2 separate regions of the Homo sapiens genome follow, and region 1 is linked to region 2. The links come from fine-mapping of genetic effects on gene expression. Tissue or cell type: caudate. Region 2 holds a variant in brackets; the other region holds the start of a gene. All regions are shown on one strand. Distances are from middle to middle.

Region 1 (15,154 bases), 66 kb before region 2:
ACCGTTCATTCATTTGATCATGTATTCGTTCAGTAATATGTATTGAATGCCTGCTATTTGTCAGGCACTGTTCTAGATCCTGGGGACCTAGCAGTCAACAATACCATCAGATTATAAACTCTCTGATGGCAGGGACTTAGCTAACTTGATTTTGTAAGCAGCACTGCTTAACAGTGATGGCTTCTAAGAAATGAGAGCTGGAGAAGAGTGCAAGACAATATATAAGGAGGCAGTAAGCTATGCTTTGCAGAACTTAAAGGTTAGCACACAGCTAAGAGATATAATCCCCACCACTGTCACCCGCTACCAAAGCATACCCCCAAACTCTGTATCTCAGTGTCAGTTTTATGGCTAGGATTCCATTTTAAAATATTCATTTATTTGTCCCATATGAAAAATGGAGTAAACACGTTAAGCCTTATCTGATCTTTTCGGGAAGAATAGATCTTCAATTATTTCATCCTCTCAATCAGTTATTTTACCTGGATGCCATGGGGTTACATAAGAGAACATACCTTTTATAAATAAGCAGATCCTCTGCATTTCTCTCATACCTGTTTCTAAGAGAAGTGGAAGGGAACCTGTTTTGTGGCCTGCTGAAGAACCAGAATATTTATTATCTAAGAAGTTTTGTTCGATGGCATCAGCCAGTTAGCCTGTTGCGTTCAATCAAGGGCCCTGACAAACACGTCAGGAAGGTCAGCTGATAACACTAATTTTTTTGACACTCCTGATGACGGGTTTATTTGATTAGATTTTATTCCTCCCCCAAAATCCACTCACGTTTTATTGCATGCTCACTTAGCCACACTTGTTATCTCAGTTATCTATGGCTGCATAACAAGTCACCCCAAAATTTAGTGGCTTAAAACAAGAGCTTTTTTTATTGGTCATGATTTTGCGGGTCAGGAATTTGGGAAAGACCCTTGGGGATGGCTTAGCCCTGCTCATGTGATGTTGGCGAGGCTCATTTGTGCAGTTGCATTTAGCTGGTCTGTGCTAAAAGGTCCAAAATGAGTTCACTCTCATGTCTGGGGTTATGATGCTGGCTGTTGGCTGGGCCACCCAGTTTTCTTGCACGTTGCCTCTCTCTCTCCATGGTCTCTTCTCCTCCAGGGCCTCTATTTCTAGGAGGGCAGCCTGGACTTCCTTACATGACAGCTCCAGGTAGGAAGTGGGTGAGAGACAAAGCTGCCAGGCCCAGAACTGGTAAGAGCGTCACTCTCACTGCATTCTATCAGTCAGAGCGAGGCACAAGGCCAATCCAGATTTAAGAGGGAGAGAAAATAGACTTTGCCTCTTGAGGGGAGAAACTGCTAGTGGCCGTCGGCAGACAATTATTCTATACAGCTGCCTTCTCCAAATAGTAACCAGTCAAGGCACTTCAAATAAGAAAGAGTTGCGGAAAAGACAAAGACTTTTCTTTGATTTATAGCATCTAAATCCAAGAGGAGTGTCAAGCTCCCCCAGGGAAATAAGGATATTTAAATGATTATCTAAAGAATGTAGCTCATGGATAAGAATGACAGTGAAAAGCATATAATATGTGTCTGTCTGTAGGTTTATAATAAATTTGAAATGTGTCATAAACCCAACTGTCCTTTTGGAAACAAATATAACAGGCTATAAAATTTGCAAATGCTTTTTATTAGTCTGAATGCATGGTGAAGGAAAAGAGAATTGAATGGCACGAGAGGATTTTACCAAAATCTCATGGGCAGCAGATGTTTTGCATGCGCTTCAATTTAGGTGCAATAATGTCAGCCACATGCTTGTCTTTATTTTTGAAATTACTTTTTTTTTTTTTTTTTGAGACAGAATCTCACTTTGTCACCAAGGCTGGAGTGTAATAGTGTGATCTCAGCTCACTGCTACCTCTGCCTCCCTGGTTCAAGCGATTCTCCTGCCTCAGCCTCCCGAGTAGATGGGACTACAGGCGCATGCCACCATGCCCGGCTAATTTTTGTATTTTTAGTACAGACAGGGTTTCACCATGTTGGCCAAGCTGGTCTCGAACTCCTGACCTCAGGTGATCCGCCCACCTTGGCCTCCCAAAATGCTGGGATTACAGGCATGAGCCACTGTGCCCAGCCTTAAGGTTCACATTTCTGAGAAGCTCCAGGTAATATTGATGTGGTCAGCACACATATGTGAATAGCAAGCATGTATAAAATAAAATGGGGGAGGAAAGAGGCTTGATAATTCTCCCTCCTTGCAGGGCAGGCAGGACTCACTCAGCAAATATTGTCTCTGTGCCTACCATGTGCCTGGAATTGTGTTAGACAACAGGAATACCAAGAAGGGATTTAGACTCAGTCTTTTAACTTACTTTTAACTTACTGAGCTACTAGACTGGAGGAAGAGATAAACAGGAAAAATAATCAAAAGTGAGAATGATAAGAGAGGGAGTGTGATTGGGGTAGGTTAGCTGTGAGCCTCTTCCTGCTCAGCACCTAATTAGGGTATAATGTGGGCAAGGGGATTGATTTCAGAGTTTCAGTAACTTCATATGTAAGATGACAATCTCTAAGGTATCTCATAGAATTCTTCAGTGAAATTAAGCCATGATGTGAAATAATGCCTAGCACATAGTAAGTGATCAGTAATGTTAACCACTGTTGTTATACAAGTACTGCTGGGTATGGGGGGAGAGAAAAGTCTAGATATTTATCCTTTAAAATTTTAACTTATTAATCATAGAGGGAACTTTGAAAATCTATTAGTAAATATGAAAAAGTAAAGAAATCACATCCATTCTCATGGCATCCCTGAGAAAGAAGCTCCATGATACACTTCGTAAGACATTCACTGAATATAAAATATGTGTGCTGGTGGTTGTGATGAAACTTGTGATTTAAGATTCTATTTATTCCTGATGCCGCGTGACCTTGGGACAATCACTGAACCTCAGCTTTCTCATCTGTAAAGTGGGAACAATAACAATTTTCATATTCAAAGTTTAGGAGGCTCAAATGTCAAAATAGATCTTTGGGGTTTTTTGTTTCTTTGTTTTTGAGACAGGGTCTTGCTCTGTCACCCAGGCTGGAATGCAGTGGCTCGATCTCGGCTCACCGCAACCTCTGCCTCCTGGGCTCAGGTGATCCTCCTGCCTCAGACTCCTGAGTAGCTGGGACTACAGGCATGCACCACCATGCCCAGCTAATATTTTTCTTTTTAGTAGAGAAGGGATTTCACCATGTTGGTCAGGCTTGTCTCGAACTCCTGACTTCAAGTGATCCACCCATCTTGGCCTTTCAAAGTGCTGGGATTACAGGAATTGAGCCACCGTGCCCAGCCCAAAATAGATCTTTGGTGTCCACAGAACTGGTTTGGAATCTTGGCCCTGTCACTTATTAGCTTGTGTGGCCTTAAACGTTTTTCTTAGCTCCTACCTCACTGAAAAAAGTACATAAAGCACTCAACAACATGAAAGACATATAAAAAGTGCTCCGTAAATGATAGCTGTTGTTATGATGTGACAGTGCTTTGAAAAATGTAAGGTATATGACTTCATAAGATTATTATTATGTTATGATCAATGTGCTGTTCTTTATATACATTGCAGTGTTAGTTCTGAGTGGTTGGCAGTGAGGCATAAACTTTGAATCCTCCCTGCACTCGCCCTCATGTACTTCTCGGAGTGACATTTGCAAAGGCAGCAGATTGGGAGTGAGAGGTGCGGTCTCTGGTGATGATGTAATTAGTCCATCCCATCATCATCACCGTCAGAGGTAAGGGACTGCCTCCTACAATGACCATTACTCCAGAATCTCAATCTCAGAATTATGAAATGCTCATACCTTTGACATATTTTTTTTCATCCTTTCAGTGAACCAGTAAACATTTCACATTCACAAGGCAAGGACAAGTGTCAAGGTTCTAGTTTGTGTTAGAAAGTGGACTCTAAAGGTTTTTGGCCCCTGTCGATGGTGCTCTGTGGAGGAGGGCAGATCCTGTGAAGGGTCACAGCTGAGCTGCAGGCAACAACCATTCTTGCTGTGGAACTGCAGCAGCTGCAGCTTGGCACTGTCTGGGCATTAACCAATATTCCAATAGCCAGAGATTGCACAAGAAAACTACCTCCACCAAAGGCAAATGTTGGAATGGGGGATGGGGAGATCTCAAAATCTTTCTCTTTTTATATTCTATTCCCAGACTCATTAGCCTCCTCTCTTACCTTCTCCACCCATCCATCTCCTTGACAAGATTATTGCGACGAAGGAGTTAATGAGTACACAGTTTTATTTTCCTTGGAAGAGAGATAGAAAACAGGCTCAAAGCAGGGCTGTCATCACCCTGCAAGTCTTCAGGGGTTTCATAGCTAATTATTAACCCTTTGTCACATTCCTGGACAAGAAACTTTCCTGCTGAAACAACCTGCTAAGATTTTCCATCTACATTATACATATGGGCTCTCAGTTTTTCAGAGTTAACAAATCAATAACACCTTGAAAACAATGAGATGTAAACAGTTTATAATGCCCCTTTGGTCCTTTATCAAAATGATCCTTCTTTACTCACTCAGCACCCAGGTCAAGTACCATTATCCTTGTTTTCTATTTTTCTTTTATATATATATTTTTTTTGAGATGGAGTTTTGCTCTTGTCACCCAGGCTGGAGTGCAATGGTGCGATCTCGACTCACTGCAACCTCCGCCTCCCGGGTTCAAGCGATTCTCCTGCCTTAGCCTCCCAAGTAGCTGGGACTATAGGTGTGTGCCACCATACCCGGCTAATTTTTGTATTTTTAGTAGAGATGAGGTTTCACCATGTTGGCCAGGCTGGTCTTGAACTCCTGATCTCAGGTGATCCCCCCACCTCGGCCTCCCAAAGTGCTGGGATCACAGGCGTGAGCCACCGTGCCCAGCCCCTTGTTTTCTATTTGAGAAAACTGAGGCTCCAAGACAGAAAATGACTGGTCAAAGGTTTCACCCATAACAAGGCCTGGCTGGAACCCAGCTCTCCTGAATGGTGACCTGGTGCTTTTTTAATGTATTGAACACAGTGTAAAATCTCACCTAACATTAAGAAAGCCCCTCTGAATCTCAGCATTCTTTAAAACCACTAAAGACCACCACCTAGAACTATAGCAAACTGGCACAAATTCAGTCCCCAGGAAGTTGTGTTAAAAAAAAAAATTCCTATGGTTAACCTTCTTTCTTGTTATTTTGTTATTTGCTTCTCTCCCCAATAGATTTCAGGCTATTTAGATTTTGGGTTCCTCTCTCAAGCATGATTAACTTAGGATGATTAACTGCTAGGGCTTCTGGAGTCAAGAGAGACCTGCAGAGATTCTCACTGGGGTTTGATTCCATGCTATCCCTGGGGTAGATGAAAATGAACTGGAAAATCTAAAATCCCCGGATGACTCATTTAAGGAATAAGCATTTAGAAAGATCAAAGTTGCAGTGTGAGGAAAATAAGGACCTACAGCACCCAAATCAACTGTTGCTCTGTGCTGAATGGACCAAGACTTGCACTTTTATGAGCAGAGACATAGATTCCCTTAGACATTTGCTGTTGTTGTTGTTGAGATCTCCTTCATCTTAGGTGGTGGCTGCAGATGAATTCCCCCCTGAGCTGGATATCACTGCTCTCCAAGTTCACACTCTCATTGCAATCACAAGCAGGTTGCTAGTATGTGGGCAAACTTCCATACATGGTATGGGGAGCAGACATGACTTCATGCTTTGCTGTAGACGAGAGGAACTGCCAAGGCTTAGGCGCCCTGTCCCCCCAAGTGTGCCCCGGCTTTGGAATCCTTTTCTCTGGCTGCATGGTAACCAGACCACAAGGGATGCTTTAGATTTGTGGGCACTCCCTCACCTTGCAGATTCTTAAATTCTATCCTCCAGAAAACTAAGATTCCAAAAAGGCATCTCACAAGTACACCCATACACATTTGAAAAAACATTTTACAAGAATTACCCACTTTTATAGTACTAGAAATGAGACAAACCTGAAAGATAATTTTAGGTCAGCATCTCAAGTAGTTCAATCAGTTCAATTCATTTTTTGCTGCATATGCTGTTTTATTGTGGGGTGGGGACAGGGAGGATCTGACAGTTTCATTTCAGGAAACGGCTGTGGGTATTCTGCATCAAATTACTGTTTTGTGTTCTTTGTGTAAAACTTAAACACTGACTGAGAGGACTTCATAAATTTAGGGTCTTTTTAATTCCATTCCCACTGCTTATTATTATTATATTTACCAAAAGGGATAGAACAAAAGGACATATTTCTTCTCGTCCAGATGGAAGGTGTATGTTTATTTGGATTACATATGAAACATAAAAGCTGGTTAAAGCTCTGGGTGGGATGGGTCAGGTGCAGCATTTTTCTGATAATATTTCTTGGGAATTAGATTTGAATTGATTTACCCACATATTTGAGCACTGCTTTGGGCATCACTGCTGAGATCATGCAAAATTAAACAAGAAAAAAATGAGGCGCAATGAATTCAGAAGGGGAAGAAGGAAAAAGGGGAGGAAGGGATAGGAAGATCACATTTTGGCTAAAGAAAAGAGGTGATCTTATGGCTGAGGGAAAGTTTAACACATTTAGTGCATCTCAATTAAAGCAAACCTCTTAGATTGTGTCGAAAATGGAATAAACCCTTTAATTTTTTTTTTTTTTTTGCCTTTTTTCCCTAAGGTTCAACTTCTCCTCTTTACCTCCCACCCCACCCCACTTCCATAAAACACAACTCAGATTTAATGTTCTGGAGCAAATGTTTTTCAACAGACTTGACCTGCTTAATCTTCCTGACAATGTGCGCAGTTATGTTAGTAATTTGCATACTCTTGGGAAGGGATATGAGACACTAGCAAACCAAAACGCCCAGAGGGCAGCTATATGTTACAGTGGTAATCTTTTTCTTTTTTTCTCAATGTGTGTATGTCTGCTTAATGTTACCACGTACTATCGTAACACACTACTACTATGGTCTGATCTTTAAGAGCAAAAGTTAGAAGCTTTGTTAACTATTATTTCTCCTTTAACTCTGTCTCTTACGAATACACAATGGCTTCTTGAAAATTATCTTAAAAAGACTCTGATTAAAACAAAAACCCAATGACAACAACAAAGCAACCCCTTTATCAAAGGCTGCAGCATTTCTAGAAGTACCCTTCAACTCACTAGCTGGGAAGGAGAGTGCACTTTTTTTTTTTTTTGAGACGGAGTTTCGCTCTGTCACCCAGGCTGGAATTCAGTGACAATTCAGTGACAAGTCTCTGCTCATTGCAGCCTCCGCCTCCGGGGTTCAAGCAGCTCTCCTGTCCCAGCCTCCCGTAGCTGGTATTACAGGTGTGCACCACCACACCTGGCTAATTTTTTTATTTTTCATTTTTAGTACAGACGGGGTTTTACCATGTTGGCCAGGCTGGTCTCGAATTCCTGACCTCAGGTGATCCGCCCGCCTTGGCCTGCCAAACTGCTGGGATTACAGGCGTGAGCCACCACTCCTGGCCGAGGGTGCACCTTTGAGACTAGGTTTCTGCAGCACACATTCATTTTAGTAATCAAGGACATATTGCTGGATTTAGGACGTGAAGAACAAGTCAGGAGCAGATGCTCCAGGCTGCTCGAGGAGGAAGGGGACCACGCCTAATGAAATAACCAAGGATGTCCCAGTCAGGAAGAAATGTGTTAAGTTTTAAACCTGTGTCTTCGCTTTTGGAAGGAACCTGGAAAACGGACGCGGGTTTGCTTCTAATCTGCAGTCCTGCTTGCAGCCTGAGGAGGACGTAAAAAGCCTTGGGGCCAGACAGCCCCAAAACGGGGGCGTTTTACCCTCTTAACTTTCTCTCCCCTTCTTGACGCAGAGGGCGTATCTTCACGCCTCCTTTCCCCAGCCCGCGTTCCCGTTCTCCAACAACAACCTGCGTGTCTCCTTTAAGAGGCGGGGGCCGTCCCTCCCTTTCTCCTCCCAGTCTCCCGCCCTTCACACCTTGGGTGGGAAAAGAGTGTGGGGGCGGGGTAGCCGGTGAAGCGGGAGGGGCGGGATCACAGCGAGCGCTCCAATGGCCCTCGAGGCTGGCCACGGTGGACTCCGGCAGCCAATGAGCAGCAGGCGGGGAGGCGTGGCGGGGCGCTGTTGCAAAGCATCCAACGTGGGCCAGCAGGCGGCCGCGGAGCGCGGAGCCTAGGGGGTGTGTGCGGGCGAGCGGCCGGGGGCGGGGCTTGGGGGACCGGCCGGGGCTGGGCCGCGGGGAGGCGAACAGCAAGCGGCTGATTGTTCGGCTGCGAGGTCGGCGGGACTCTTGCTGCGCGGAGGAGCCGTGCGGAACCCGAGGCTGCGCGCGCGCGCGCGCTCTCTGGCCGCGGCGTGGGGACAGCGAGGCGCACTGGGGCCTCCCAGCGCGGGGCCGGCCGCGCCGTCCAGCCCGAGGTCTACGGCTTTGCGCTCCGAGCCCAGAGGAAGATGCCTGCCGGCACCGAGCTCGGGCTGCGGGGCTGAACGCCTGTCTTCCAGGCGCAGCGGCAGCACTGCCCTCGGCCGGTGTCGGTAGCGGCACTCGGCGTGCCCCGGGCGGACGAAGAGCGCAGGCTGGGTACACCTTGCCCGAATCGGCGGAGTTCGCAGCTAGCGCGGGCGGGCCGGCCGGCCCGGATGGGCGCGGGGTTTGCGGCCCCCGCCGGGTGCTCCGGAGCGGCCCGGGCACCGGGGGCACGCTGAGTGCCGGAGCCGCGGCCGCAGAGAGAACTTGGGGCGGGGGCCATGCCCCGGTGCGGAGTCTAGAGCCGAGCGGAGCGCCCCGCGGGCCCGCCCGCGTCTGCGGCCGTTCGGGTCCTCACAGTCCCCGCGCCCGGAGTTCGCAGCGCGCTCCAGACAAGATGGCGCGGCCGGTCCGGGGAGGGCTCGGGGCCCCGCGCCGCTCGCCTTGCCTTCTCCTTCTCTGGCTGCTTTTGCTTCGGCTGGAGCCGGTGACCGCCGCGGCCGGCCCGCGGGCGCCCTGCGCGGCCGCCTGCACTTGCGCTGGGGACTCGCTGGACTGCGGTGGGCGCGGGCTGGCTGCGTTGCCCGGGGACCTGCCCTCCTGGACGCGGAGCCTGTGAGTGCCGCCCTTTCCGCCCTCTCTGCGCCCCGGGGCTCTGTCACTTGGGGATGGAGCGGCGGGGGTTCGTACTCAGGGAGGGGGTGCGGACTGGGTTGTGTGTGTGGAGTTGTGCGTGCTTGTGCGTGTTGGAAGACTGTCAGGTTGGAGTGGCGGAAGGGAGATTCTGCGTGGAGGTCCGGGGGAGTAGGCGTGCGAGAGAGCCTGGAGAAGAAGAGCGTGCCTCGTGGGGTCTGGAGACGAGCGAGCGTGGGTCGTAGAGATTTGGGGGTTAGCCAGCACGCGTCGTGCGGGCCATCTGGGGGTGAGTGAGTGGGAGTCTGGAGCTGAGTGTGTTTGCGGGTGGGTGGGTGGGAAACGTCTGGAGAAGAGTGTGAAGAAGTCTGTGGGGGTATGTGGGTGCGTTTCCTTTTCCTCTCCTGTAATCCAACTATTTGGTGTCTGAGCTCCTTGGTCTTCCAGTGGGTAATGAATGAAGGTGACTGTTGGGTCCAGTCTTTCGTTTACATTATTTATTAGTTGATAGTGTGTGTAGCCGTCTCCTGATCCCCGAAGACCGTGGTGGCCTGACTTGCCTCTCTGTGCGGGGCAGAAGGCAGTCTTCCCCCGAGGACCCCTGAGTTAGAGGGCTTTGACAGTTCCTGGCGACCTGTGAGTGCTGGGAGTTTGTCCTTTTACGCCTGTTTGGCATTTTACGGAACTGTGTTCCAGACCCTTCCTGTGTGTTCCCTGGGGCCCCATTGGGCTTGATGATCCAGTGGGGTGGGGCCCACCCTCAAGACTCTCTCCTCCATAAATGGTGCAAATGAGTTTTGGAGAAGTGCTGCTTCAGGAGAGGGTGCCAGGGGCTTGGCTGATTTAAGCTGTTTGTTTCACCCGAAAGAGGTTCTTTTCTGTGCTGTCAGGATGTGGGCTTATTAGGACTTAGTGGGACACTTCTTACAGGAGATTTGACAGGAAAAAAAAGGCATTAGACTTCTGTGTAAACATGGTAGAATAGAATAGTCTTCTTTTACTTCTAACAAATCTGGTGCATGAGTCAAATCCCGTTCAGTTATGGGTAATTAGCATCTCTGTAGAACCATTAGTACCTTTCCAGAAAAGGCCTAGCTTAAATAGTCCGCATTTCGGTTGAATAATTGGACATTTTTCCTAGAACATAGGAAAGGCACAGCAGTAACCTTAGGCATGACTATGGCTGTTTTAAAAAGAGAAAACTGGTGTCACAAGTTGTAACCAGCACCTGTGGCTTGATCGAAGAAAATGTGGCCTGTGTTCTGACTACCGTGAAGGGAAGAAAAGTTAATTCCTTTTAAATGTAAAGATCCTGTACCTCTCAAAATGGGGCACGAATCTTTAACTTGGCCCGAGACACTGCTCCATGAACAAGTACTACAGAGTTCTGAAGACAACCAGGAACCCTTTAGTTACAGTTAGGTTTTCAATATCTACTTCTTCTGTGGAATTTACTGAGTTAGTGAAAATCAGTGGTCGTAGGGTGGAGGCAGAGCTTTTGTGAAGTACTGGGAGATAGAGCCCAGTATTGTCCTTAGGTAGTCTCTTATTTAGTCTGGGGTATTGTGATTTTTCCCTTACATACGGTAGTTTTTTTTTTTTTTTTTAAATAGAATCATGTGGGCAAAATCAGATTAACTTCTTAAGTGTTCACCTGTTGGAAGAGTGACTCCCAATGCCATGTGTCAGTGGCATTGTGGGGAAAGCACTTAGTTCCACAGAAGTAACTTCCCAGAGAGGGCAGGGTGTCCTCTTATTTGCACTTTCCTATGGTCACAAGATCCACTTTGCCTTGCCCTTTAATTTTTGGAGCAAAACATACTGGTTATTTCTTTAGGCTTTCTGTTGCCTAGGAGTGACATTTCACATGGCATAAATACCTTCAAAATTGAAGTCCTTCTCTTTTACTCACACATTTGATGATCGAGAAATACCAAAGTGGGTATTTTGAGCATCAGTAGACTTTAGTATACTGATTATGGTGTTGACTGATTCGATTTTAAGATATGAGCAGCATGATTTCTGGTTAGTATGTAGCAACACAGTATGCAGTGCAAAATGGCTATCCTTTGAAAAATATTTGTGAAGTTTTCTTATTTCTGATTAAGGACAAATCAAGCAAATGTGTTCTTTTTTTCTAGACTTCAGACTTCTGAATTTAAATCATTAGTCTCCGTGAGTCTTATTCTGGAATTTCCATAAGAGTATTTATATGGTTTGTATTCCTGGCTAAGATTCAGCAAGACTTTAGGGGAGAAAGTGTCTGTATATGATATAATGAAATATCTTGTAGTTTCACCAAGTTTACACGCTCTAAGCCCACGGTGTCTAGAAAATGCTTTGAGCTAGTTTATAAACCCATGAACTGGATTTACTGCAGCTAGTTCAAACAACTTCAGGCTGTGGGTTTGAGATAGCAGAGGACCTGTGGCTTTATGGGACCTTTTTTTTTTTTTTTTTTTTTTTTGTAAACAGTGCGTCTGATGTGGAAGTTGCTTCTAGGCCTGATATAAGAAAAATAAAACTTTTAAATAGTGAATGTAAATGCAGTGTGAATAGAAGAAACAGAATGGATAATGATAATCGGTTCATTTTTGGGGCCTGAGGATAACTTTTCAGCACAATAACTTACAGTTGTAGTAGTCAAGCCATAATTTAAGTCTCCCAGCCCATTACGTAGGTGAGATTGGCATGGTCCAACTAGCACATTCATAAATAGCACCAAGCCACTGCCAAGCCTTATTCCAACTTCCCAGAACCTGAGAAGAAGTTGAACTTCTTAGAACTCAGATATTTGCTTTCTTTGAAATTATTTTTGAGAGCATGGCTTCAGAAGCTATTTAAGAAGTATTAAATACAGTTTACCTTAGACTCTTACCTGTGCCGTAAATTTCAGCAGTGTTTAGTCACAAAATGTTGCTAGTTTAAATGTCCTGAGAGCTGAATGGTAGCCCATTGGGATTGGGATTAGGATTAGGAAGGCAGGCCTAGAGGAAGAACAAACCCTGATTTTTGTTCTCAGTGTGGAGTGAAGATGACAGAGCATTCTAAAGCAAGGATATTCACAAAAGTGTATACCAAGTGTGGTTATCCTAAGCCACATTAAGATGAGTTTATTGATTTTGATCTCTTTGTACTATGTGTTTGCAATACCAGATCAGTTAGCTTAAATCTAACCTTGCCAGTTTTGGCAAAGAAGTGGTACTTATGATTACCTTAGAAAATAAACACCAACTGTGGTTGCCATTGTGGTTGGGAAGCAAAGAGGGCCTTTGTCTTTCAAATTTTACAGCTGTGCTGGAAGGCCCAGGTGTGCAGGGTGTTGTGAATTAAGGGTTTGGAAAATACTTTCCATCCTGTTTATGCAAATTAAGTTTAAAGTGCAGATCACCAAATTGTTCTGGAACCTAAACTGAGATTCATGTTTTTTTTTTAAAGTAGATTGTTGTATGGATGGTCCTGAAATATTTCCTTCTCCATATCACTTAAACTCAACAGACTTTGAAACAAAAGTCTTCCGATTTGTGGGACAGGGAAGAACCTGGGTTGTTTGGAATAGGGAGCATTTTAAACACAGGTTAATTGCCAAGAATACAGTCTGAAAGGTGCAAGTGCTCTTAGAGTTTCAGGGAACTTTAGCTTGAGCTCAGAGTCCTTTTCTTTTGCAACAAGTGTCTTCCCTCTTGTTGGGGGATAACTTGTCTGTTGATAGCTCTCTGACAACTTTTTTTGAGTAAGGTGAGATTTCTGGCAAATAATATTGGTTGTCGTGAGAAAAAGGCACACTGTTTAAGTCTTGCTGATATGAAATTGTGGCCGTAATATCTATTCTTTGAGTACTGCTAAAGTAGGAAGTGTCCAGAGATTCCCAGCGCCCCATGTAAATTAACTGTGTATTGGCACACAATGTCCCTCTTGCCTTTAGGACATGTCAGAACTGTTCCTGCCCCGCTTTTCAAGGGACTGTTTTAAAAAGTAGTGTATTGTCTCTTTGCATAATTATATTTGGTTACTAGATTTTACAGACTTTGGACTTTTGAACATATTATCAGCAGTAATTCTCGGAACCATCTTCAGAAAGATGAAGAAAAATTAAGTGTAGTGTGATGAGAGCTGGTTCCTAGTGGATGTCCTCATGTCCCATCTCCCCAGCTCTGCACCGTTAGCTGAAAGCTTTCCTCCCTCCAGTGTTAATTACTTTGCCTGGGTTCTCCCTGCAGCTTCCCTGAGTCCATTGGGACGGCCTCTGGCTGACCTTTCTCTCCCTCAGACACCATGATCACAATGAAAGGGCCTCTCCCGCTTCTGCAGGGGTGTCTCCTTGGTGCAAAGTCTTCAGCCTCCTCTCTTTCAGGGTGGACAGGAATGCAGGAGAGAGCACTGGGGTTTTGTGTGACTTAACAATGCACCTGGCCCAGTGCTGTGCACCTGCTAAAGCCCTGAAGGTCTGTTAGATAGGAAGGCTGGGTGGAGGTTGTTTAAAATAGCCTATAGTTATTTAAAAAGTGGCATGCACAGGAGAGGGAAATCTAGAAGAGGGATTCATTGAATTGAAAGTTGTTATATGCAGTAAAGGATGTTGGTTGTATCAGAGTCTTTCTTTCTTCTTTTCCTCGTTTGTTTAAAACATAAAAGGGATTCCTCTGACCTACCCCATAGGTAGAAGGACTTTAAGTTTCACGAGCAAGCCTAACTTTCAATTCCTTTTGAATGAGCTATGTGACATTTACTCACTGGGTACGTTCCCCCTCCTCAGTGACTGCAATTTGAAACCCTGGGGGTCTTTTAAAAGCGAACAGAACTCTGGGCCGTGTTAATATTCAGAGCTGTTTACAATGGATGCAGTTTCAAAGGCTGATGGCATTGTCTTGAGACAGGAGGGAGGACGGGTGGAGGAAAAATTCCCAGGCAGGGAAGGGCAAATATCTAAAAATCTCCAGTGTTTACCAGCCTGTGGGAAATTTAGGGACCGTTACTGTTATTTTTTATGACTTAAGCATGACACTGAGCCACTAGGGTTCATTCTATCTACCTCATGGCTTCAGTTCTTGTATGTCAGTTATGTGGTTATCTTGTGCTTTTGTTTCAAGTTAAAGTGTGGAAATTGGTAAGAAACTCAGATCTTATCTCCTCTGGAAAGAAATAGAGCACTTTGAAGACCAGTGGTTAACATTTTTATAATAGTTTACCTCTGGGACCTGCATTTATGTTTTGCTCAAAGAATTTGATATAGCTGCACAGTTTAGAAGAGCAGTCCCGACTGACCAATTAATTGTCCAATTATGACTAGGACTGAGAAGTTTTTTGCTGAAATACTTGATACATGACCATTCTTATTAAGCAAAATGAATGGATCAATAAAGATTGCAGAAAAAATTTGCAGTTTATTGATGGTCTAATTTCTAGTTGAAAGTCGGCAATTTGTGTCTCTTTTTTGTAGGGGGTGGTGGGTATGCTTGTGAACTTTTCTTATACAAAGGCTTTTTGCTTTATATGTTCTTATATTCTTATATTTTGTATAATTTGTTATCAATGGTTTTTACCTAAGTACTTTATGCATAGTCTTTTGAAACACAAGTTATAACTTCAATCTGTTCATAGAAGTCCTTCAGTTTTTTAAGCTGTTTCTCCATTTCACTGGGTTTTATACTTTTCATTTCCTGCCTTTAGTTCTTTATATCTTCTAAATGGGCATTTGCTACCCAGCTGTCTCCTGGTCTCCATTTGGGTTATTGACTGGGGGAGAGAATGGGCTAGGGACAAAGCTTTCCTCACCTTTACTGTGTTAAATATGCAGGGGCTCTTGCCGCTGGTGGTCACACCCAACTCACACTCGTCATTAAGGAGTGGCGGTGAAGGGGTTGAAAGTTAATTCTGTGGTCCATCCCTGGCACCTCCAGTCTACAGCTACATGTGTGATTTTGGGCAAACCTCTTCATGTCTAAAAAGACAGAAAAATGCTCTATCTTATAGAAGCTGTGAGGACAAAGTTAGATGATGCCTATATTTAGCTAGGTTCCTCAACTTGGGTCCATCTACTTTATGATGATTCTGGAGCACAATTTGAAGGTTAAAGGCCT
Region 2 (15,154 bases):
AAGAAAGCAGCTCTCTGTCCCGGAAACTTCCCAGGGATTCCGTAGTGCAGACTGCCACTTGCCCCCAGTCTAAGCAAGCCTTTCGCTGGGAAAAGAGCTGCTGTGGCCTCCGCAGCCAGCCTGCCAAATTACACAGTCATGACTTGTCATTTTCCTTCTCTCTTTTCTTTCCTTTTTTCTCCTTTCTTTGAGAGTGGGGGTGGTGAGCCAGCCAGATGAGAGGTACATCTGCAAGTCATTTGCTGAGAAAGTGAAGGGAACACCAGCTGTGGGGTTGGGGGAGCCGAGGAAGGGGAGATCCCATGGAATAGGAGCTTGGTCACAGAGATCACTGCCTCTTTTGGAAACTCGGTAGCTTTTGTTGAGCGTAGGGCTTTTTTCCTTTCCACCACCCCGCCCGCCTCTTTCTCTCTTTCTTTCCCTTTTCCTGATGACCATGCAAGCTTTAAATATAGCCCAAGATCCACTGGGGACCCGGGTTGCTCCCCAATGTTGGAGAAGCAGTGGATGGTCTCGGAGGGGAAGTGCTGCTTCTTCCAGCAGTGAGTGCTGAAAACCCTCCAGGGCTGCTTGAAATGGAGCCGGGAAGCGGAGCTGCTCTGTCATTGCACAATCTCCCGTGTGAAAGGGGTTGGCTCCAGCCCATATCAACAGTCTCATTCCAACTGGGACCATTTCCTCCTCCTCCTCCTCCTCCTCCTCCCCCTCCTCACTTCCTGCAGGTGGCTTCTGTAATCCAGTTACCACTGGGAAGCCTCATGTGCATATGCACCTAATCTGAAAATGGCTGGCTTGACTTTGACCTGTGTGGTGACCTTGCAGAGAAGGCAGGGCCTATTGTGTCTGCTCACACCTGGGAGCCATTTTCAGCTTTTATAGCCCAAGTGGAAGAAATGTGTTTGTGTTTATGCCGGGCCTTTCCTTCATAAGGCCTGTCATTGTTGGGCCATACATAGGGAATATTGGATTCCCCCTGCTTGTTTAAAGGCAAGAGTTTTTAAAGATAGAATAGTTGACTCAGTATATTGAGTCCCATGAAATCACTGTTTGTGTTTTGTTCAGTAGTGGTCAGACATCAGCAATCTTGTATTGTTCAGCCTTTTGAGAAGAAAAAATAGTGACCGTCAGCATATATGGTACACTGATATTGGCAGGCGTTGCTCTATGGACTTCCCGGGACCTGTCTTACTGTGTCACCTCTGCAGTCCTATGAGACACAGGATCTGTTAAGCACAATTTACAGATGAGGCACCTAAAGCACAGAGACGGCAAGTAACGTGCTCAACGTCACAGAGCAAGGAAGCATCAAAGTTGGATCCTGTTATTTCTCTCCATCTCTGGGGCTTATGCTCACTGTACACTTGGAAGTATGTGGTCTGGGTGCCTAGAAGGGTCTTGTCATTTTAAGTGCTGACATTTCAAACTGTACTAGGTGTGGGAAGCCTTGGTATTGTGGCCCAGAGGCTTCGATGATACTCTGGAGTGTGGAGTCAGAGGCTCCTACCCTGCAAATGCAGCATGCATCTCCCAAAGTGGTGCTGCGTGCCTCTGTAATGCCCTTGCTTTAAAAGCCTCTTTCTGACCCGAGGTGAACTTGCTTTGGGTAGCTCTTGGTATGATTTTCTTTCACTGATGCGAAGTAACAGAAGGTCCTTCCCCCTACTATCTTTCCCTGTCTCTCTCTCTCATGTCAATTCAGAGCTGATTATGCCGGCCATCTGTGAAAGGTACAGTGAGGAAAAACACTCTTGTCGTCAGGTCTCGGCAGAGCCCAAACGTGTTCGATTGTGCCAGTAGATTCTCGGATAGTGGCTATCTGCCCCCGAAGACATCACTTCAAGGCAAATTCCTCTGCAGTTTCCTCACTTCCTGGATGCCTTTCAAACCCAAACAGCTGAAATAAAGGTGCCAGTTTGTGGTTTTTTTTCTTCCCAACTTCATCAACCAGGAGGTGAAATGTGTGCTGTGAAGTGTGCAGCCCCAGAGGTACTCATGGGCTGCCCTCTCAGGGGCCACTGGCTTCTGCCCAACTAGCTGTCCTATTGTAGAGTCTCTTTGGGGGCTCTGATACTTTTTTTCCTCGGGGACAGCTGCTGTGACGTTAGTTTGTAAATAGCAGGGCTCCTTTTCCACGTAGCGGTAGGACAAAGGTAGGTACAAATGGATCTCTTCACCTTACGCTGATTCAGGCATCATGTGGGCTTTATAGAGAGGGGGCATTTTTGCACAGTGGTTAAGAGAAGGCTCTGTATCCATCAGATCTGGGTTTGAGTCCTGCCTGCATCACCTTTGCTATGTCACCTGGGCAGGTTCTCTCAGGCCTCAGTTTTCTCACTCATAAAATGATATTTGCTGATAAGGTGGTGGTTAGGATTAACTAAACAGTATGTGTCCTCAGTATAGTGTCTGGTATATACTGAACGTGCACTGAGTGTTAGACACTCTTGCTATCTCTGACAGCTTTGTACTGAGCACCTTTGGGGTTGTGGGCAAGGCAAGCCTGCTTTTGCTGCTGTGCTCTGAGGGGCATTGCTGCTGTCTACACTGAACCCTGGAGGCCGCCTGGTATTGGAGACTGGAGAGGGGTCTATTTACATCCCATAAAAATGGATCTTACTTGCAGATATCCATCATGGCTCACCCTCCTATAAACCAGTTGAAGCTTACAGAAAACCCTCGTATATGTATCTGTTCATTCCTCTTACGGGAGCTGTTGAGGACAGCAGCAGAGTTTATTTTCTCTCCTCTCTTGTCATCTTCTGTTTCTCTACCTGGGGTAGGTGCAGCAAGCAGCAAAGTGCTAGGCAAATGTTTAAGCGGTGGCTCTCACTCATAGTAGAATGACCTAGGGAGCTTAAAAAAATCTAGATGTCTACGTCTCAGGGCAGTTAAATCAAAACCTCGAGTTAGTGGGCTGGGGAGCAGAGGGGGTGAGTGTTGGGCCCAGGCGTTGTGGTGGTTTTTTAAAAAAGCTCTCCAGGTCATTTCAGTGTGCAGCCAAAAGCTTTAATAAGCCACAGCTGGATAATTGCAACTGAAAGGCATTGTTCCTCCTCTTGTCTCCTCCCCTCTCATAACTATCATTTAAAATACCCAGGCTCCCCCACCTCCCTCCACTCCTTTTTTTCCCCCTCTTTCTTTCTCACCAGGTGGAGGGGAAATAAATATTGAGGCTGGCCTTCATTTTAGTACTTAGGACTCTGGGGATCCCTAGTAGAGGTTTTAGTTTACCTCTTTTCACTGTTGATTTAATTTGAAGATACTGTGCAGTTAGCCACAGCGTGATGAGGAAGTTGCTTTGGTGGTGCGCGGGTGAGGGTGTTTGGTCTGATTAGACCTGCCCACCTTATTTGGAGATCACAGAATTCAACTGTGGATTTGCCCCTTATCTGGGTCATTCTTTCTTCTGATAGCCCACCCAACTGTCATTTGCATTCTACCTATATGTCAGAAATGTCCCACCATGATGGTGGAAAAAACTCTCTTTATAGTAAAACAATAGGCAAAACTGACTTATTCTAAGCTCCTTAAACACCTTTTTCTTTATAACTTCAAAAGTAAGACTTGGCTCTTTTTAAAAAAAAAAAAAAGTAAATAGATGATATAGAAACTGAAGGATCTCACCCAAAAGCTTTATTGTAATATAGCAAAGTTCTGGTGCTAAAATTGAGTTGGATAATTGTATAATGGGATTTTGTGAAGGTTGTGTTTGGAATTGGATGCTAGGTTAAGTTGCAAAGAGTAGAACTTTGGAAATGAGAAAAAAAATTCCCCTTGGACTTTTTAGAATGTGACTTTTCTGCAAATCAAATGTACTTTTTATAAGGGGAAAAACAGTGGTTATCAGCATGCATAGTGAAGTTTTTCTGCCTCGTAATTGTTGGGTTCTTCTCAATCGGAATGAGAGCTGGCGTGTTGAGAAAGCCAGCATGGGCTTCGTGGGCTGGGCCCGGGGAGGCCTTGGCGCAGTTCTTCCAGGGGCTCCCCTTCCCCATGGCCTTGCAGACAGCTGTGATAAACCCTTTCACCACCTGGCTTTCCTCACGGGCTAGGCTGGCCCCTGCTCTGTCTTCCTCTCCTCTAGTGTGTGTTAACGAGAACCCTGATTTGGTGATGCTATAGCAACTATTTGGTTCCAAGTAAGAGCCCAGTGCCTGTCTTCACTTTCCCCCATTCCCTGGAAAAGAGCTGTAGTCCCTGAGAGATTCAATACGTCATCAAAGGAAATGGTGATATGGCAGAGATGTGCATTCCCTGCCTTGGTGGCCTCATGGGTCACCTCTAGGAAGAGAAAGCCAAAAGGCGTGAGTTGTTGGCATAGTGGTGAGGACCAGGTGGCCTCTCACAGCGCCATCCCTTTGTGGGCATTTCAGTAGAGGGCATTGGTCCATTTTTGCTCACCTCCAGTTGGGTGCTGGAATTTCTGCAGTGGTATCTCTGCTGCAGGGGAAGCCCTCTCACCGTCCTCTTGTCGGGACGTAACCCAAGGCTCATTCCAACTCTTGGGAACTGGGAGGAAACATCCCTTCCTGGAGTGTACAGGGCCTTTTCCCCCTTGTTAGCACCAGTAGTGTTCAGAGGAACGAGTGTCAGGGCACTTGGCTTGTGGTCCCTACTCTGACATTATGGATCCATTATAGGACGTTTCACAAAACACTTCTCTTTGTGACTTCTGTTCCCTCACCTGTAAGGAGAGGGGCTGGTTCAGTATCAACCATACTCAACCAGGGTTAAAAACACACATGGCTGCTTCCCTACTGGAGGCCTGGGCTGTATGTTCTTTGGAACAGACTCACATCCCTAGTTGAGAACTGCTGTTGTGGGTGACCCTGTAGTTCTGGGGCCCCAGGTTCCTGGCAGGCTCACATGTTTATGAATTCTGTGGAGAAGGCCGGCTGAGCTGTGTGCTCTATGTTGCAGAGTCTGCGTGGAGTGGGACAGGGGGTAGCACCCTAGCAGGCCCTTCGGGTCCGGTGCCAAATCTGGGCCCTGCATCTCATCTCTACAGGGGTTCCCCAAGGCCTTGGCTCCCAAGCATCCAGATGTGGCTCTGAGGCAGCCCTCATCCCTCCCCACTCCACACCAGCCACCCAATGAAGTACCTTCATCAATATTTGACGAAGACATGAATGAAGGGTCCCTTCGTGGCTTCCCATCCTCTATGGGACAAAGTCCCAGCTCTTTCAGAGTTGGCCCTGGCTCCATTTCTTCCTGTTCTCCCACCTCTAAATTGTGCGTAAGGAAAGCCCACACTGGGTGTGTCTCTGGATCCTGTACCTGCTTCATTTTGCTACCTTGATCTGGAATAGCCGCCCCTCTTCTGACCTCCTCCCCCCATGATGTTGTGTTCCCCTCTGCCACTGCACCTATGACATCCCTCTGTCTCCTCTGGGGCTGGGGTGAGGGGCTGATGGCACAGTAGCCACGTCCGTCTTTCCTTGCAGCAGCTGCATGTAGCAGGCATCCCATCCATGTATGGATGAATGACTCTGAGGGACCAAGTGGAAGGGTCATCTTAAGGATAAGTGATTGTGGGGTATGGGGCAGACACTAGGTTGTTTTAGATACTTATTCAAGGTGGAGAGACAGGCTTGGGCACGTTATAGTAGAAGTGGCCTGCTGAGGGGTGCTGGAGGGCGTGGCTCTCCAGCCAGGGGATAAGTCTTGCTTGCCTGGATTTACTGAAGAGGCAGGCAGGGTGTCAAGGGAGAAAAAGTATTAGTGGAAACTGCCATGTGAGAGGCCGCCTGGCCCAGAGGTGGACAGGGCTTGCCCCCAGGGCTCATTATTGGGGTTTGAGTCCTGGTTCTGCCATGTTCTAGCAGCAGCTTTTCAAGCCTCTGTTTGCTTAGATGAGAAATTGCTCTTACCTTACCACAGATGTGTCAAAAAAGGGCTCTCCCAGTCTCTGCTCGCTTGTTTGAGGGGCCAGCAGGTGGTTTGGGAAAGGCTTTCTGTGAAGCGAAGGTGGAGAGTCACTGCAGATCCCTGCAGGCGTCCAGCCCATGCTGGGAGATGCCACCCGTTCCCCACTGCAGAGACGGAAGGAAAATGAGGGAGGTGCAGCAGGCTGCGTAAAAGATGACATTAAGGAGTGCCTGGATTCTAGAGGTGCCAGTAGATGGCATTGAGGGGGAAAAGAGTGCTCTGTGTTCAGAAAGTTCAGAAAACCCAGAGTTGAAGGTGAGCACCTTTCTTTCCTGCAGAACATTTCAGAGCCTTTAGTGCTTGATGTTCCCTTTGAGTCTCCAAGGACAAGCAGAGATCTTCCTAAGATCATTTCATCATAGCTCTATTATGTTTTCATTTTCTTTCAGAGGTAGGAAGGGAGATTTTGGGAGCATGAGAGGTGCTGACCTAGAGAATGATAAAATCCACTCCTCACGTTCCCCTGGCAGTAGAGAGTGCTGCTTCCCTGTCTCTAAATGCACATCCATGAAGTTTAGACTTCGCTACCACAGGCATATATTCCCCCCTCCTCTTCAGTTCTTCCTGTGCAGGCTTGTCACAGTTTGGCTTCATTTGGAGGCTGGCACCAGACCCCCGGGCTCTGCGTTGTATGTCTTTTGACCTCAAATGAGGGGGAGAGACGTGGTGTTTCCCACAGATAGTGAGTAGTGAGCCACCTGGAATACTTGTTCTGTGGGATGTTAATGGTCGTTTCATGAAAAGGATTTTGTGGTCATGTAAGTTTAGCAAATGCCAAAGCAAGCCGAGTGAAAGGTGTTGTTATCATCTCTCCTAAGCCGCTTTTCTTTGCTGACCTGCTGAGGGAGTCTGCAAGAGGCGGGGGAGGAAATGCCCCTTCCTGAGCTTGCCTGCACCCAGCACCCTTTCCATGGAACACCTCCCAAGGCCAGTATACGAAGGATGATGCTTTGGGAGTGTGGTGTCTGGCAACCTGCGTCTGCCACTTTCTGGGCATGCACGTCTGGCACGTCTTCCTTGGCCAAGTAGTGCTGGAAGAAGACACAGGGCTGGATGACAACCCCTGATGCCAGGCAAGGGCCACGCTAGCTGTCCTCAGCTTTATCAGCAACACCCTTGTCTCTAGGAGTCCCAGCCCTCAGCCCTTTCCTAAATGATGGGAAGTAATTAAACAGTTCATGCATATCCCTACATTTCAGAAATCACACAGAGCCCAGTGGTAGTTGGTGCTTGGCTCTGAGACCTCAGTCATACTGTGTAAGTTTCTGCTGGTTTGAAGGATGGCTGGAGACTAGTAAAGTAGCAGGAAGGCTGATTCCACTGGGAACTCCCCCAGACTTTCCATCTGATTCCACCGTGAATGCCATGACACTTTTGTATTGTTGTTTTAATGATACTTAGGGATAATTGTTGATTCACATGCAGTTGTAAAAAAAAAAAAAGTAATATGGGGAGATCCCTCACGTACCCTTAAACCCAGTTTCTCCCAATGGTGACATCTTGTACAGCTTTTCATAACCAGGATATTGACATCGATGCAGTCAGAATGCAGAATATTTGTATCATTGCAAGGATCTCTCCCCTTTATGGCCACAGTCATTTACTTCTTGCCCTCACACCCTTGGTTGTCTTTTGTTTTCTTTTTGAGACAGAGTCTTGCTCTGCCATCCAGGCTAGAGTGCAGTGGTGTGACCTTGGCTCACTGCAACCTCAGTCTTCCAGGTTTACGTGATTCTTCTGCCTCAGCCTCCCAAATACCTGGGATTACAGGTATGCACCACCACACCTGGCTAATTCTTGTATTTTTGTTTTTTGTTTTTTGTTTTTAGTAGAGATGGGGTTTCACCCTGTTGGGAAGGCTGGTCTCAAACTCCTGACCTCAAGTGATCTGCCTGCCTCGGCCTCCCAAAGTGCTGGGATTACAGGCTTGACCCACCATGCCTAGCCCCCCCTGGTTGACTTCTAATGTGTTCTCCAAATTTGTAGTTTTTTCATTTAGAGTTTTATATAATGGAATAATAAAGTATGGATAACCTTTTGGGATTGGCTTTTTTCACTCAGCGTAATTCCCTGGAGGTTCATCTAGGTTATTGTATGTGTCGTTCCATTCCTTTTTAATCACAGAGTTGTATTCCATAATATGGATGTGCCGTACTTTAACCATTCACCCGATGAAGGACATCTAGAATGTTTCCAGTTTGGGGCTGCTTTTAAAAAATACTGCTATGAACATTTGTGTTTGGGTTTCTTTTGTGTGTGTGAACATAAATTTTCACTTCTCTGGGATAAATGCCCAGGAGTGCAATTGACAGGTCATATGGGAGTTGCATGTTTAGTTTTTTTAAGAAACCGTCAGACTCTTCCAGAATGGCCATACCATTTGACATTTCTACCGGCAGTGTATAGGCAATTCCGTTTCTCCACATTATGGCCAGCATTTGGTGGTGTGTTTTTTTTTTTTTTTTTTTAATTTTTTTGAGACAGAGTCTCGCTCTGTTGCTCAGGCTGGAGTGCAGTGGCATGATTTCTGCTCACTGCAACCTCTGCCTCCTGGGTTCAAGTGATTCTTATGCCTCAGCCTCCCCAGAAGCTGGGATTGCAGGCTTACGCCACCAGGCCTGGCTAATTTTTGTATTTTTAGTAGAGACAGGGTTTCGCCATGTTGGTCAGGCTGGTCTTGAACTCCTGACC[T/G]CAAATGATCCACCCGCCTCAGCCTCCCAAAGTACTGGGATTACAGGTGTGAGCTACCGCGCCTGACCGTGGTGTTGTATTTTTTTAATTTCAGCCATTCTGATAGGTGTGCAGTGATAGCTCATTATGGTTTTCATTTTTATTTGCATGATGACCAATGATGTTAAGCATCTTTTCATTTGCTTGTTTGCCACCTGTAGATTCTTTTTGGTAAAATGTCCATTCATGCCTTTTGCCCATTTTCTAATTGGATTTTTTGGTTGTTTTTTGTTGTTGTTTTGCTCTTGAGTTTTGTGAGATGTTTGTATAGTCTGGATATATATTCTGGATACCAGTTCTTTGTTAGATATGTGATTTGTAAATACTTTCTCTCAATCTGTAGCTTGTCTTTTCATCTTAGCAGAGTCTTTCACTGAACAAACATTTTTAATTGTGATAAAGCCTAATAAGTGTTAAGTTTTCCTTTTATGGATTGTGCTTTTAGCGTCAGGTCTAAGAATTTTACCTGTAGATCCCAAAGATTTTCTCTTGTGTTTTCTCTTAAAAGATCTGTAGTTTTATGTTTTGCATGTAAGTTCATGATGACATGTTTTTAAAAGCCTGAAATAGGGAAGAAACTTGAAGCTTGTGGTTCCACAAAAGAAACAGCAAGAATTGCTTCTCATAGGACCCCAGCATGGACAAGGCACGGGTTGAGATGGTTCTGGGGTACAGAGAAGGGGTGCTGCAGACAGTGCCACTTTGGTGTTGTAACAAATCATTTTTGGGGTGGGTGAGGAAGGGCTGCGTTAAAGGGCCAACTCCTCAATCCCACCCATACCCATCCTTAACCCTCCCGGAGCACTGTCAGGTCATATGCTGAAGGCTTGAGAAATTGCGTGGTAAGAGATATTGTAAATCGTATGATTGGGAGATCAAAGTCTTTCAGTTGGGGCAGGAAGCAGGCCTGGTTTTATTTTTAAAGGCACATCAGTGGTATCCCTCCCCAGAGGAGGAGAGGATCTTGTCTTAGAGGCTGCAGCCAAGTGCTGAAACAGCTTCCTCCTTTGCCTGGAACTGCAGAGCTGTCAGGAAGCTGGCATGTGAATCTCAGGGAATGTGCCAGTGGCCAGTAGAGGTGAGGGGCCCATGTGTAACCTCAGAGGGAGCTTTAGCGCTGCAGCACCCACAGTCCCCTCTCTGTCTTCATAGCCGCAGGCTGTCTGGTCTGGCTTACTGTGCCACTGTCACTCCAGAGAGCGGCACAGCCTGGAGTCAGAGGATACCTATGCTTGCATCTTGGTTAGCTGGGTGACTTCATACCAGGGTCTTAACCTCTCTGATTCTGGAGTAGGTGGTGGCTTCTCTGGCGTGGTGGTAAGCAATGAGCGAACAAGTTTCTTTTGTTCCCTGGAGAGTGCTCAGTTCTGTGCCTTTATACTTACTGCCTGAGGAAATAAGAGCCACTCTCACCCACCTGTTTAGGATGGGGACATGGCCGCTGACCACTCCAGTCATCCTAAATATAAATAGAGGTGGTCTGGCTGGGCCCTCTGGCAATGCTGTGTTGACATGCTGTGGGCTGAGGGCCTGGAAGCCTACGTGTGGGTGTGGGCCCCTGGCAGGACTGGGGATGAACAGTGGCTTGCGACAGGACATTCCCCTTCTTGTTCCCTCTGTATCTGCAGAGTCAGGTCCTGCCTCTGCTCCAGTCACATGGTGTGGCCCCAGTGTAGGGTTATCCCTGTCCCTGGTGGATGCCGAGAAGAGGTGGGAGGTATGGGGTGCTATCAAGAGAAGCTGTCTTCCTCAGGTTTCTTCTGCCCGCTTCCCTGGTGAGGCAGTTCCACATCCTGACTAGGAGTGTGGGATATGGATTCCTGTTCCGGGCTCCAGTCCCAACTGCACTGCTTACTGCTGTGTAACCTTCAGCAAGTGAGTTGACCTTTCCGTGCCTTAGCATCCCCATCTGTAAAATGGGGACGGTAATAGTGGCCGCCTCTGGGGTTGTCATGAAGATTAAATGAGGGAAGATGTTAAGAGCGAAGCCAGCGCCTAGCTACTGGTAAGCACTAACAAAATGTTAGATTTGTTCCCACTGTTCCTGCCATTATGGCTACTCCTGCCACCCCTTCTACTGGAAAGAAAATGCAGTGTGACTCCTCCATAGCTAAGCATCAAGGGCAAGCTCCCTGGACATCCATGGCCCTGTGCAGCATTGGAACCACTTCCTGGAGGCCGCAGAAGCACCAGGGCTCCATTCCAGACTCCGGCTACAAAGGCCCTTTGAAGTTTGCACCACCTGGAGCAGGCTTTTGTGCCATGAGAGTGTCGGGGGCAGGGGGTTCAGGAGGAGGTTCTGTGTGGAAAACCCTCCTTTGTGCCTGGTGGACTGGTGGTGGAATGCTCAGGCCACCCTGGGCTGTACCAACCCTACACAGCTCTCCACCACACTTCTTAGTCTGCTCTGCACTTAAGGATTAGGTCCCAAAGTTCATTGTCTACGTTTTCATTAACTGCTTTGTAAATATAAATTTAATGTCACATAATTGACAGGCAGTATGCAAAATGGGGTGGGGATTCCATTATCATCGTACTGTGAGAACAACATCCTGTATTCCCTATCTTTTTTTCTACGTGTATCTTCTAGAGAGGGACAGTCATGTGAATTGGTGGGCTGTGTGCCCTGCTTTTGGTTTAGCATGGTGGCATGGACAGTCTCCAGGTGTGTGAGTGCTGCAGACCGCTTTGCCCAAGGCTGAGATGGAAGGGTGGCTGTGAGAAGGAGGTTCATTCTGCTCCCTTTGGGAATTTGGCGTGAGGTCAGCATGTTTCTCAACAGTGGTTCCATTTTTTCAGGTCCTAGTTGGTGAGGTCAGAGGAACAGAAACCACAATAGCTCATGTCAGAGCTCATTGGTCTTGGACTCCTGGGTGACCCCCTCCCCCAGTTGCTGACCAGTCCCTGTGGAACTTGGGCAGAGGAGGTCCTTGCTGTGTGAAGTGCAGTATCTCCATCATTTCACACCCCTGGGCTCGGGACTTCCCACCTCACCCTAGTTGGCGGAGCCTTCTTTGGAAGAAAACCATGCATGGCAGCCTCCTGATACCCTCCAACGTGGGTAGTGCGGACGCTTCTTGGTTAAAATTTCTGGGGTTAGTCCCTGGCCTTAAGGGACACTCTCATCACCTCATTCTTGATCGTTGCCATCTCACCTTTTCTGCTTTTCTTGTCCAGAAACAGTTGCTCAGCCCCTGGAGTCTGGTTGAATCCATGTCTCTCATTCTGTGTCCTGGTTTTCTTACCTCCTTCCCTCAAGGGGCAGAGCTGAACAGGCAGGGACACATGTGCCCTGACAATTGTAATGAAGTATGTTTAGCCTTCTTCTCAAAGGGAAATCAGAGGGGTTCAGTTCAGCTGTGCCGTACCCGGGATCCACGGTTGTGCCGGGCTTGCTGGCTCCACATGACACAGCTTGATAGCCCGGTGCTCTGCCAACTTTCAGGGTGGGGCCTGTGCTCTACGAGGGCTGAGAGCTTGTGGCGGGGTCTCGGTGTGGTGGAGGGAACACCATCAGTGTGCTGGGGTGTGGGGTAGCAGGTCACCAGGGAAAGGAAAACAAAGGGGGAAGAAAATAGGGATGTATTGATACATTTGGGGGAAAACACAGCCCTGAGAGAGAAGCAAGTGTCTATGTTGGCCCTGAGCAAAAGCGATAAATACGTTTGGCTCTTCTGACCCAGAGGTGGGCATATGTGGCTGGGAATTCTGGTGGAAGTGGCTCATTGTCCATCTCTGGCCCAACTTGAGCCTGGTTTTTCATCTCTTAGCCCAACCTGGTACTGCTTTGCCATGCCCAGATGCCAAGACAGCTGACCTCCGTGTGGACATGGAACTAACTCCTCAAGCCCCTTAGAAGTCACTGCCCATGTTAGGATGGCATAGCCTTTCTCCCTGGGAATGTGATCCATATGTGGCTTGTACAGCTTCCTCGGGTCAGCAGTGTCCACGTGGAACTCCCAGGGGAGGCGTGTGGATGGGGACCTCAGGCAGGGCCGAGCTGTGGCTAGAAGTGAGTGAGGGAGAGATTGTTGGCCAGCCTTGGATAAGCATAATTGTCTCAACATTGCAAGCCAGTGAGGGCCAGTGTTTGGGGTTCAATTGAATGTGGGAAATGCGTAAGTAACCCCCACCCCGTGCTATTTGAAAATCGAAAATCCATCGTATTCGACATTTGCTTTTAAATAGGTCTGTCAGCTTCCCTACCTTTTTTAAAAAAGTTAACTCCACGTTGTGTCTTAAATTTTTTTCTTTTTAAAAGTTTTTAATTGGATGGTTGGTCCTGCCTCAGTGTTTTTTTTTTGTTGTTGTTGTTGTTGTTTTGTTTTGTTTTTCCTGAGTAATGTTCCTTGGTTCAGGTTTGTTGTGGTGAATGTAAGACATTGAACTAAAGTTGTAATTTGTTTGTTTATTCAACAAATATTGATTGAGTACCTTTTAAGTTCTAAGCGTTATTCTGGGGGCTAAGGCTATAGCAGTCAATACGATAGACTAAAAATTCCTAGCCGGTGTGCGGTTTATATTCTACCCAGTCGAGACTGCAGGACTACTTAATACTTTAGGAGGTTTTGTTTTGTTTTGTTTTTAATTAATGGACTTTTATAGCAGTTGTAAGTTTACAGAAATGGAGTGGAAAGTACGGAGAGTTCCCATATGCCCCCGCCATCTCTTCTCTCTCCCCCTCACACACACACACACACACACACCCACCCTGTTTCCCCTATTGTTAACATCTTGCATTAGTGTGGTACATTTGTTACAACTGATGAGTCAATATCGATCCATTATTACTAAAGTTTATAGTTTACATTAGAGTTCAGTCTTGGTTCTGACAAATGTATAATCACATGTGCCCACCATTACAGTGTCATACAGAATAGCTTCACTGACCTAAAAATCTCCTGTGCTGAACCTGCTCATCTCTCTCTACCCAGCCTCTGGCAGTTAAATATTGTTACTGTCTCCATAGTTTTGCCTTTCTCAGAATGTCATACATTTGGAATCATACAATTGGTAGTCTTTTCAGATGGGCATCTTTTACTCAACAATGTGTATTTCCTTAGGAGTTTTGCTGCTGCTCTTGTTTATTTGTGCATCTTAAATGCAGAACATTCTGATAGTTTGGATTGGGTCCTGGGTCATTCATGAGTTGGGTCACTCTAGACTTCACAGAACAGTGGTGGCCAGCTGTTGATCGTACCTAGATTTTTTCGTTTCAGGGATCCGGGGCTTTCAGTTCAATGGGTGTAAGTTGATGGGTGGGAGAACCAAATGGGATCTGCTGTAGCAAGGTCCCTGGGGTTAGGTAGTCTCATGGGGATGGGACATTGGGTCGTCTTTGCAAGGAGTTAATGGAAGCTGTTTGTTGAAGACCCAAAGGGGAGGGTGACCCTAAAGGAAGTGAACGGGTTGGGAGGTTGGTTGACACAGCCCAGTCCTGCCTTTGGAGAGGTTGACCCTGCCTGGCGGAGGCTGTTTATCCCGCCACTGGGCTGCTCTTGTTTTTTATCCAGTCTCCACCTGAATAAACAGATCTGGAACGTCATCTGCAGCCAGGCTGAGAATCTGCCAAAATTCCCCAGGGAACTGGTGATTCACCAGCAGCAGGGGAAGAGAGAGGGAACAAGCAAGAGAGAGAGACCTGCTTATTCTGATTCTCATTTCCTGTCCAGCAAATAACCCAGGCTGGGCTGTTTCTTACGAGACAGCAGTTCTTTGAGTAAATGATCAATTTCTGCAATAGAACAAATGATTTTGATTTTAATTTTTAAGAAGATGGATGTAAAGCAGGCTAGAGGGAAATGGTTTCAACTGTCATTCTGAGAAGGGAGACTTTTATTCAAGTTGGATTAGGAAAGCTCTTCCGCATTCACTTGTTCTTGAAAAATGTCTCATCTTAATTTTCAAGTTCTGTATGGGCATTGGTCCTGGCACAAGTGCATTATCGTAAGCTGTGGACTTTAGCATCAACATTATTTCTTGCCAATTTTGAGACTTAGAATTATTCTTTTTTTTTTGTGATCATTAGGCCCTCACTTATTTTAAAAAATTCTACTGGACACCTGAAGAAGATTAGATTGAGCTTGGCCATGTTCGGTGGCCCCAGGCTATATTCCTAATGTGTTTTTTGGGGAGGGGTCAGAAAGGGGACATATGAGGGCAGTGGCATCTGAGAATGTGGTCAAATGAAGCAGCATGAAACAGGGCACTTGGAGCTAATGGTTTTCAGATTCATTTCAACCCTGGGGGACTTGATTTAAAAGAAAACTACCAGTGTCTGCTAAGGCCAGACATATGCAAGCTCAATGACCTGAGTAGCAATTCCATGCCTGGACATTGCACGCCTGCCAAAAATGCATGCAGACATGCACCAGAAAGCAAGTGCAGAAGACAAGTCCGTGTTCATAGCTGTGATTTTTGCAATAGCCTGAATTGGAAATAACTCAATGTCCGTCAACAATAGAAAGAAAAAATAAATTGCTGTATGTTCTGTCAA

What was found. PIP is the estimated chance that this variant, and not a neighbour inherited with it, causes the effect.
Region 1: LRIG1 starts here. The variant in region 2 is fine-mapped to the expression of LRIG1 in caudate (GTEx, PIP 0.98).

The regions. Positions count from the first base shown.
Region 1 is chr3:66,494,092-66,509,245 of GRCh38, reverse strand. LRIG1 (leucine rich repeats and immunoglobulin like domains 1) reads left to right here and starts at 8,224. Exons shown (of 19, transcript NM_015541.3): 1 at 8,224-9,056. The coding sequence starts at 8,839. RefSeq lists silencers at 7,855-8,514, 8,535-8,674, 8,715-8,794, 8,815-9,024, 13,247-13,541 and enhancers at 8,127-8,627, 8,628-9,128.
Region 2 is chr3:66,427,998-66,443,151 of GRCh38, reverse strand. All of the region lies in intron 3 of LRIG1 (leucine rich repeats and immunoglobulin like domains 1), which reads left to right. Among named protein-coding and RNA genes, the nearest start is that of LRIG1, 65 kb to the left of the region's middle. RefSeq lists enhancers at 1,202-1,949, 6,257-6,846, 6,847-7,437. The variant T/G (reference allele first, on the strand shown) is at 8,620.